2 separate regions of the Homo sapiens genome follow, and region 2 is linked to region 1. Evidence: fine-mapped expression QTL. Tissue or cell type: pancreatic islets. Region 1 holds a variant in brackets; the other region holds the start of a gene. All regions are shown on one strand. Distances are between the middles of the regions.

Region 1 (5,146 bases):
TGTGTCCTGGGCCGGAAGACCAAGTGGGGCATCATTGAAGGTCAGTGCGGGGCCCCTGGGTAGGATGCAGGTGGGGTCAGTTTGGAAACCAGAGCAGCCTTGGGCAACCTTCGCACCCATCACAGGGCACAGAAAGGTGAAGCCCACTAGACAAAGAGCCCTGGGGAATGGTCCCTCTTTCCAGCTGGGAGGCTGTGGCAAGTTTCCGGACCCTCTGGGCCTCAGTTTCCTCACAGTAAAGTGGGCATCACAGTGCATCAACTTCCTAGGGTGTTGGAGCGGGGAGAACCACCATTTTGCACAATGCCCAATACCCAAGGCTGCCCTAGTGGCTGGCCGGAAATTACGATGGGCCTACTGTGTATCAGGCACCGCTATGTGCAGTTACTGCAGTGCACGGTAAAGGGAGGACTGACAGGGTCCCTGTCCCCATAGAGCTGACAGGACAAGGACAGGTCGGGGAGGCACAGTGAAGGCGATTGTGGCGGGAGGGAGAGGAGACTGCCTTAGGGAGCTAGGGAAAGTGACACAGGAGGGGCAGCGAGGATGTAGCCCCTGATGTATTATTATTATTTTTTATTTTTATTTTTTTGAGATGGAGTCTCGCAGTGTCACCCGAGCTGGAGTGCGGTGGCGTGATCTCGGCTCACTGCAACCTCCGCCTCCTGGGTTCAAGTGATTCTCCTGTCTCAGCCTCCCAAAGAGCTGGGATTACAGGCACCTGCCACCACGCCCAGCTAATTTTTTGTATGTTTATGAGAGACGGGGTTTCACTATGTTGCCAGGCTGGTCTCAAACTCCTGACCTCGTGATCTGCCCGCCTCGGCCTCCCAAAGTGCTGGGATTACAGGCGTGTGCCACCGCGCCCGGTCAGGTGATGTATTATTATAATTATTAGAAATATTCTATACTATATATATATATTTTTTTGAGACAGAGTCTTGCTTTGTCACTCAGGCTGGAGTGCAGTGGAGCGATCTTGGCTCACTGCAACTTCCGCCTCTCAGGTTCAAGCGATTCTCCTGCCTCAGCCTCCCAAATAGCTGGGACTACAGATTATACCACCACACCCGGCTAATTTTTGTATTTTTAGTAGAGACGGGGCTTCACTATGTCGTCCAGGCTGGTCTCAAACTCCTGACCTCAGGTGATCCACCCAACTCAGCCTCCCAAACTGCTGGGATTATAGGCGTGAGCCACCGCGCCCAGCCAGAAATATACTATACTATTGCCTATGATATAGCACCCATGCTATCCGCAGAGGGTGGTTCCAGGACCCCCAGGGATACCAAAATCGGCAGATGCTCAAGTCCTACAGTGGGCACCCATGGATACAGAGGCCGAGTGTACATATAATACAATAATGATTGGTGGATTCATTCATTCTACAGCTATTTGTAGGAGCCGCCTGTACCAGGCACTGGGAACACAACAGTGGGTGAATGAATGAATGAACCAACAAAGGGAAGGCAGGATAGGGTAAAGAGAAATGTGGGAAAAGGGCTAAGGGAAATGGTGTCAGGTGGTGCATACAGTAGGCACTTACTCAGTGCTCACTAAGCAGCGCCCATACTGAGTCCCATGTCTTGCAGTGGAGAACATGGCGCACTGTGAATTTCCTCTCCTGAGAGACCTGCTTATCCGGTGAGGGTGTGGGGAGCCTGGGGCTAGGGGGCTGGCGAGGGGCCCTGGGGACACCACCATCGGGGCTGACCGTCTCCGGTCCCCCAGCTCCCACCTCCAAGACCTGAAGGACATAACCCACAACATCCACTATGAGAACTACCGCGTCATCAGACTCAATGAAAGCCACCTGCTGCCCCGCGGGCCCGGCTGGGTGAACCTGGCCCCGGCCTCCCCAGGACAGCTGACCACCCCCCGGACCTTCAAGGTCTGCAGGGGGGCCCATGACGATTCTGATGATGAGTTCTGACCACCGGCGGATCCCGGGGCTGCTGGGCTTCCTGAGTCCCCAGCGGCTCTCAACACACACCTATGTACCAGAGCATCTATTAAATGTGAGCCTTGCTTTTTATGAAAAGCTGTGCTTTGAAAACAAAAGGCATTTTGTAAATGACTTCTTTGAGCTATCCACAAATAAAAAGGCTGGGTGTCACTCTGTTACCCAGGCTGGAGTACAGTGGCGCAATCATGACTCACTGCAGCCTCAAATTTCTGGGCTCAAGTGATCCTCCTGCCTCAGCCTCTCAAGTAGCCAAGACTATGGGCATGACACCACCTTGATGGGCTGATTTTTACCATTTTTTTTTGTAGAGATAAGGCCTCACTAGGTTGCTCAGGCTGGTCTTTAGCTGACCTCAGGTGATCCTTCCGCCTCAGCCTTCCAAAACACTGGGATTACCACTGCTGCCAACCAAGTATGTTTTTGTGGTGGTTGTTGGTTGTTGTTTCTGAGATGGAGTTTTCTGGGGTTTTTTTT[T/G]TTTTGTTTTGTCTTGTTTTTTGAGATGGAGTTTCGCTCTTGTTGCCCAGGCTGGAGTGCGATGGCGTGATCTCGGCTCGCTACAACCTCTGCCTCCCGGGTTCAAGTCATTCTCCTGCCTCAGCATCCCAGGTAGCTGGGGACTACAGGCATACACCATCATGCCTGGCTAATTTTTGTATTTTTAGTAGAGATGGGGTTTCACCATGCTGGCCAGGCTGGTCTTGAACTGACCTCAAGTGATCCACCGGCCTCGGCCTCCCAAAGTGCTGGGATTACAGGCATGAGCCACTGCACTCAGCCTCTGAGATGGAGTTTCACTCTGTCGCACTGGCTGAAATGCAGTGGCATGATCTGGGCTCATTGCAACCTCTGCTTCCCGGGTTTAAGAAATTCTCCTGCCTCAGCCTCCCGCGTAGCTGGGATTACAGGTGCCCACCACCACGCCCAGCTAATTTTGTGTTTTTAGTGGAGACGGGGTTTCACCACGTTGGCCAGGCTAGTCTCAAATTCCTGACCTCAAGTGATCCATCTGCCTCAGCCTCCCAAAGTGCTGGGATTACAGGCATGAGCCACAGCACCCAGGTTTCTTTTTGAATAATGTGAGACCCAAGGCCCTAGGAATCTTGAAGGCCTGGGAAGGCATGCCTTGGACAACCAGCCCCCTCTGCCCCAGAGCCAGACCCAAGTGACAAAATCAGCTCTCCCATCTGTCCCAGCCCCTTACTCCTGGCCCGGGGCTAGGCCCACAGGCCAAGAACACTTTCAAAATCCCCATCTTTGTGGCCTGATCTCTGGCTGTCTTACCTGATCTCTGTGTTCCACCATCCCCCACCTTCCTCATTCCCCTGCCCCAGGGGCCAGCATGGCCAGCAAACAGCTCCCACTGTGGAGCCTGGCAATGCCAGTGTGAAAATCCCAGCAGGCAAGTCAGTTACTTATGCTCCCCTTGCCTCACTTTCCTCATCTGTAAAATGGGGATCATGGTACCAAGCACATAGCACTGTTGTTCAGACAAAATAAAATACTCCCTAGGATGTGCCGACCACAACCTGGAGAAATGGCATGAAGACAGAGGCTACATGATCAAGATGGAGCAGCAGTCCAGGGTGGAGGACCTGCTGCAGAATGTGTGAGCTCCACAGCCCAGGGACTCTCCAGAAAGCTAGAAAATAGGCCGGGCACGGTGCTCACGCCTGAAATCCCAGCACTTTGGGAGGCCGAGGCGGGCAGATCACCTGAGGTTAGGAGTTCGAGACCATCCCGGCTAAAACGGTGAAACCCCATCTCTACTAAAAATACAAAAAATTAGCCGGGCGTAGTGGCGGGCGCCTGTAGTCCCAGCTACTTGGGAGGCTGAGGCAGGAGAATGGCATGAACCCGGGAGGCGGAGCTTGCAGTGAGCCGAGATCCCGCCACTGCATTCCAGCCTGGGCGACAGAGCGAGACTCCATCTCAAAAAAAAAAAAAAAAAAAAAAAAAAATTAGCCGGGCATGGTGGTACGCACCTGTAATCCCAGCTACTCAGGAGGCCGAGGCAGAAGAATCACTTGAACCCAGCAGGTAGAGGTTGCAGTGAGCCGAGATCACACCGTTGCACTTCAGCCTGGGCAACAGAGCGAGACTCCATCTCAAAAACAAAACAAAACAAAACAAAAAAGCTAGAAAATAAATGGATTTCACAGAATCCCACACCATGGGGGCCAAAGCTACATTAGTCATTAGTTTGGTAATAAAAGAAAGGGCTACCCCTCTAATCTAGGAAGCTGGGTGCAAGGTGAGCCTTCAACAAATGACAACAATGAGTAGCAGTTTTGTTCCAACTAAAAGTCACCTTCTCCCTGAAGCCCTCCTTGCCTTCCCCAGGCAACCCACTCACTGCCCCCTCTGAGTGTGTGTCACCTAGTTTGTTTCCTGGTCAGTCTCCCCCATTAGGCTGGAAACATAGTGAGGGCAGAGATATGTCAGTTTCATCCCTGCATCCAGTGCATGGCAGGTGGTAAGAACAGGGCTGCTGACTGAACAGAACGGACCCTGCATTGCCTGCCCTACAGCGATCTGCTGGTTGAATTCACAAACCAGCTTCTCCACCCACACCGCAGGCTGACTCCAGGACTGGGGAGCTTCCAGAGCCCGTGGGCACTCAAACCACCCACGACCAACATCTGAGTTGGCTGAGACACTGGCCCACGTCACAGCACATCCCAAGGTTTAAGATTAGCCCTGGGCCCGTCCGGGAGGGAGGTGGGGGTGTCAGCCCCCCGCCCGGCCAGCCGCCCCGTCCGGGAGGGAGGTGGGGGGGTCAGCCCCCCGCCCGGCCAGCCGCCCCGTCCGGGAGGTGAGGGGCGCCTCTGCCCGGCCGCCCCTACTGGGAAGTGAGGAGCCCCTCTGCCTGGCCACCACCCCGTCTGGGAGGTGTACCCAACAGCTCATTGAGAATGGGCCATGATGACAATGGCGGTTTTGTGGAATAGAAAGGGGGGGAAGGTGGGGAAAAGATTGAGAAATCGGATGGTTGCCGTGTCTGTGTAGAAAGGGGTAGACATGGGAGACTTTTCATTTTGTTCTGTACTAAGAAAAATTCTTCTGCCTTGGGATCCTGTTGATCTGTGACCTTACCCCCAACCCTGTGCTCTCTGAAACATGTGCTGTGTCCACTCAGGGTTAAATGGATTAAGGGCGGTGCAAGATGTGCTTTGTTAAACA
Region 2 (5,146 bases), 260 kb before region 1:
TCTTTCCTTCAATCACAGTCTAAAGGGGCTTGGAGAGGCTTCCCTGCCACACCTGCAACATCCTTCTCTCGCAGTCCTGCCCTTTGCTTCTTGCATTCATCACATAACTGTTTCATGTCTGTTTCCCCTTGAAAAGCTAAGCTCCATGAAGGCAGGGATCAGCTGCAACGGAGCACATACGAGGTGCTCAGCCTGTTGAACACACAAATGATGGTAGAACTCAAATGAGGATGCTAAGAGGGGACAAAAGTATTCCAGGCTGAAGAGCAAAAAAGAAAACCCTTGGCTTCTTAGCAGCTTTGGCTAGAACTGTGGATATGGGCTGCTCTGTTCAAATGCAGAATTTCTGTGGCACCCGTTATGTGCTTAGAAAAACTTGGCAAAGGAGTAGCAAACCTCAAAGTAGGGAGAAAACCAAAGTCAGAACTTGCCAAAGACTGCCTGTTCCTGCAACTCCTAACTGAGGCAGAAAAAAAGAGCGCTTCCGGAGGCAGGGAGTAGGCGTCAGGCCTGGGCTCCTCTGCTGGTTATTTTTAGCAGCCCAATGCAAAGCTCAGAAAGATATACTCCCTTCACATCAATATATTGGTCATTTAAGCCTCTAGGAGGAGCAGTCATTTTGTACATGGTTAAAGTGAACTAGGAGCGTCAGAGCTGTTCCCGGGACCCCTTTGAGGTCCCTGAATTGTATTAGTTTCCAAAAGCAAGGCATCAGCATGGCCATGTTCTCTGTCAAAGCTCAAGAGTCTCTCCCACGCCTCTCTCCTAGCTCTTGGTGGCTGCTAGCCTTCTTTGCATTCTTTGACTTATGACTGCATCAGTCCAATCTCTGCCTGTGTTCATATGAGCTTCTTTCCTCTGTGTGTATTTGTGTCTTTTACAAGAACACCAGTCAGATTGGATTCAGGGCCCACCCTACTCCAGAATGACCTCATCTTAACTAATTACATCTGCAAAGACCCAATTTCCAAACAAGTTCACATTCTGAGGTTCTGGTAAGGACATGAGTTTGGGGGGACACTCTCTAACTGAGTTCACTAACCCTCACCGTGGACTGGCTCAAAGGAGCAGTGGCTCAAAGAGGGGCCTGAGATCAAGCACCAGAAGTGCTGACTGTGGATGAAAAGGGGCTGGCCTGGCCCCTATCTGTGTCCCCCCATACCTGTGGTAGTGAGGGAGAAGGAAAAGAAAAATCCGTTGGGGAAAATTCTGACCTCAGAAGTGGCCTGCCTGAAAAGTCATAGAAACTGGCAAAAATAAAGCAACCTGGGAAAAAACTCAGGCTGGACCTGCACGGAGATAAGCAGACAGGGTCCAGCGCAGAAGCCCTTTGTTCTTTGCATAATTAGCAGGCTCCCGGGAAAAAGTTTCCTCTCCTTTTCAGGCATATACACAGTGGGCTCCATGGAAACCGGCACAGGGAGGAGGGGGCCTTATCTAAAACAAACCCACAGTTACACAAACAAGAGAAGCAGCGATTTGCACTTGCCTAGAGACATACCCACAGCTGCATAACATAAGGGGAGCTGCACAGGCAGTTTTACTGGTAAGAAGTTACTCAGTTACCAGGAGGAGAGCAGTGTCCTATAAAAGTTTTTTGCGGCCAGGCACAGTGGCTCACGCCTGTAATCCCAGCACTTTGGGAGGCGGAAGGAGGCGGATCACCTGAGGTCAGGAGTTTGAAACCAGCCTGGCCAACATGGTAAAATTTCGTCTCTACCCAAAATACAAAAATTAGCAGGGCGCAGTGACGTGTGCCTGTAATCCCAGCTACTCGGGAGGCTGAGGCAGGAGAATCATTTGAACCCAGGAGGCAGAGGTTGTTGAGGTTGCAGTGAGCCAAGATCGCACCATTGCACTCCAGCCTGGGTGACAAGAGCAAAACTCTGTCTTAAAAAAAAAAAAAAAAAAAGCTTTTTGCATTCAGCTGTAACCCGACAATCCACTCGGACTCCCGTCTCCACTTTGGAGAGCTTTCTTCTTTCCCTTATTAAACGTTCGCTCCAACCCCACCCTTGTGTCCACGCTCCTTAGTTTTCTTGGAGGTAGGACAAAGAACCCCGGGACTAGTTCAGACAAGGAGAAACTGCTATATTAAGGTGCACTGGCAAGACCGCAACAGTATCAAGCCAATTAGACTTGCCGTGGCTCCTGGAATGGCCCACGCACTGCACTGGCACCAAGACACCACCCAACCCTGGACACTGCACTGGGACAGGAGGCCTGAAGAGAAGAATCCTCTCAAAGGAAGCTTGAAGTACATGCTACAAAATAAACTGGCTTCTATACTCAGGGCCAGCTTCATGGGCTCACTCAGAAGGTCCCTGGCTTGCTGCAACCATTTGCTCTGACCATCTTGAAATTCTTAATAGTTTTCTGGGTTTTTTAGTAAGTGTCCCCACGTTTTCATTTTGCATTGAGTCACACAAATCATGTAGCTGGGCTGTCTTCAAAAATGTCAAGGTAGTAAAAGACAAAAGGCTGAGGAGCCTTCCAGATGAAGAGATCAAAGAGACATGACAACTAAAAGCAACTCCTGGGTTACAGGGTCAGGGGCGGACAAAAAGGAAAAGAAAAAAAAAGACATTAGAGGGACAATTGAAGGTTAGCTGTGGATGACATCACAGAAATGTCAATGGGAGTTGTCCTAATGATATTTGCCCTGTGGTTAAGAAAATGCCCTTGTTCTTAGGAGATTCATGGCGAGGTATGGGGTAAAGGATCATGACATCTGCAATTTGGTTGCCATTGGTTCAGGAAAAAAAAAAAACAAAGTACAAATGATTGAGTAAATCAGGCAAGCCTAAACCACTGCTAAACATGAATAACAGTTCTACGAGAGTTCTTTATGCTCTCCTTGCAACTTCCTGTAGGTTTGAGATTACCTGGAGATAAAAAGTTAACATCACCAGCACCGCCCGCCAGCCCGCCAGCCGAAAAGAGCGCAGGTAATTCAGTCCGAGCTGAAAGCGGCCACCCTGGGACTTGAGTCACGTGAGGCGAGCCCACATGACCCGAGGCCCCGGTCCAATATGGCGACCTCCACGGGTCGCTGGCTTCTCCTCCGGCTTGCACTATTCGGCTTCCTCTGGGAAGCGTCCGGCGGCCTCGACTCGGGGTGAGTGCAGCTCCCTGGGCCAGCCTGGTTCGGGGGGTCCCCCCTGTCCTCCGAGCTCACGAGGACAGCCCCCTGAGCTCACGGCCGCCCGTCCCCGCAGGGCCTCCCGCGACGACGACTTGCTACTGCCCTATCCACGCGCGCGCGCGCGCCTCCCCCGGGACTGCACACGGGTGCGCGCCGGCAACCGCGAGCACGAGAGTTGGCCTCCGCCTCCCGCGACTCCCGGCGCCGGCGGTCTGGCCGTGCGCACCTTCGTGTCGCACTTCAGGGACCGCGCGGTGGCCGGCCACCTGACGCGGGCCGTTGAGCCCCTGCGCACCTTCTCGGTGCTGGAGCCCGGTGGACCCGGCGGCTGCGCGGCGAGACGACGCGCCACCGTGGAGGAGACGGCGCGGGCGGCCGACTGCCGTGTCGCCCAGAACGGCGGCTTCTTCCGCATGAACTCGGGCGAGTGCCTGGGGAACGTGGTGAGCGACGAGCGGCGGGTGAGCAGCTCCGGGGGGCTGCAGAACGCGCAGTTCGGGATCCGCCGCGACGGGACCCTGGTCACCGGGTGAGGAGGCAGGGAGCCCCGTGCTGTCGAGGGCAGAGGGCCTGAGATTTGGGTTGTAGCCGTGCCTCCGTGTTCAAGTCACTTAACCAAGCTGAGCCCCTGTTTCCTCCTCTGCAGAATGGGGATAGGAATCGCTTCCTTGCAGAGTTTATTCATCATCCAGTATCATTGAGCACTTGCTTGTATCAGGCAATGTGCCGCGCCCCGGTGAGATAGCCGTGAACAACACAGTCTTTGCCTTAACAGCCCTCCCCCATTACTAGAAAAATCAACAAAAGCCGGGTAAATAGCTAACATACATTCTGATTGCTGTGTGTGCAGCAAAGCAACCAACGGGGTGAACCCGTTGTAAATAGTGTTGATTTTAGGGAGGGTGATCTGGAACACGCCTCTCCGAGGTGACCTTTGAGTGGGAACTTGAAGATGAATCACTAAGTGAGCCAAGGTCAGAACTGGAGGAAGAGCGTTTCAGTCCAAAGGAACCCCACGCACAAAGGCTCAGAGGCTCAGGGGGGCTTGTGTGTATGAGGGACTGAAAAAGGAGTGGGGTGTCAGAAACATCAACTCATCAAGACTGATGATTTTTTTTTTTTTGAGACAGAGTCTTGCTCTGTTGCCCAGGATGGAGGGCAGTGGCATGATACCGGCTCACTGCAACCTCTGCCTCCCGGGTTCAAGCGATTCTCCTGCCTCAGCCTCTGGAGTAGCTGGGACTACGGACGTGTGCCACCACGCCCGGCTGATTTTTGTATTTTTAGTAGAGACGGGATGGGGTGGGGAACGGGGGAGTGGGTTCACCATATTGGCCTGGCCGGTCTCGAACTCCTGACCTCAAGTGATCCACCCACCTCAGCCTCCCAAAGTGCTGGGATGACAGGTGTGAGCCACCACGCCCTGGCAAGATTGATGATTTGAATTATTTAAAATTATCTTAAAAATTATTTGAGTCTCAAAAAAAAAGTATTTGTTGATGATAAAGCTTGTTCTGATCCTGAGTGGGACCAGGTGGGAGAGAGCAGTGGAGAAACAAGGAAGCCAATGAAGGGCCGTAACAGGGATCAAGTGGTAGTTGGGCTGGGTATGGCCTGGGGATTGAGGGCCATAGATGGATTTGAGCTCTGTTGGGGGATGGTCATTTCTGTTAAATGAAACAGACTGTTTGCAAAGGCTTGTGGGGATTGTATTGTCAGAACCCTGTCCAGCTTCAGCTCTGACAACAGGGAGATTCCTAGGGCTGTTAAGTTGTCCCAGCTACACTCAGGCCCCAGGAGGTTCCTGGGGCATGAGGGGGAATCTAGCAGCCAGGTTGGGATGGCTAGGGAGAAAGAGCCTGACTATCTGCAGTTGCCCCTGCTGGTGAGTGAGCTTCCCACCTTCCCCGGATCCAGGTACCTGTCTGAGGAGGAGGTGCTGGACACTGAGAACCCATTTGTGCAGCTGCTGAGTGGGGTCGTGTGGCTGATTCGTAATGG

The links. PIP is the estimated chance that this variant, and not a neighbour inherited with it, causes the effect.
Region 2: it holds the start of NAGPA, and the variant in region 1 is fine-mapped to the expression of NAGPA in pancreatic islets (PISA, PIP 0.95).

The regions. Positions count from the first base shown.
Region 1 is chr16:4,774,584-4,779,729 of GRCh38, reverse strand. SEPTIN12 (septin 12) reads left to right here. Exons shown (of 10, transcript NM_144605.5): 8 at 1-40; 9 at 1,593-1,644; 10 at 1,732-2,124. The coding sequence ends at 1,933. Among named protein-coding and RNA genes, the nearest start is that of ZNF500, 10 kb to the right of the region's middle. The variant T/G (reference allele first, on the strand shown) is at 2,441.
Region 2 is chr16:5,031,801-5,036,946 of GRCh38, reverse strand. NAGPA (N-acetylglucosamine-1-phosphodiester alpha-N-acetylglucosaminidase) reads left to right here and starts at 3,012. Exons shown (of 10, transcript NM_016256.4): 1 at 3,012-3,118; 2 at 3,219-3,674; 3 at 5,063-5,146. The coding sequence starts at 3,033. NAGPA-AS1 (NAGPA antisense RNA 1) reads right to left here and starts at 3,245. Exons shown (of 2, transcript NR_038913.1): 1 at 2,886-3,245. RefSeq lists enhancers at 2,901-3,080, 3,274-3,775.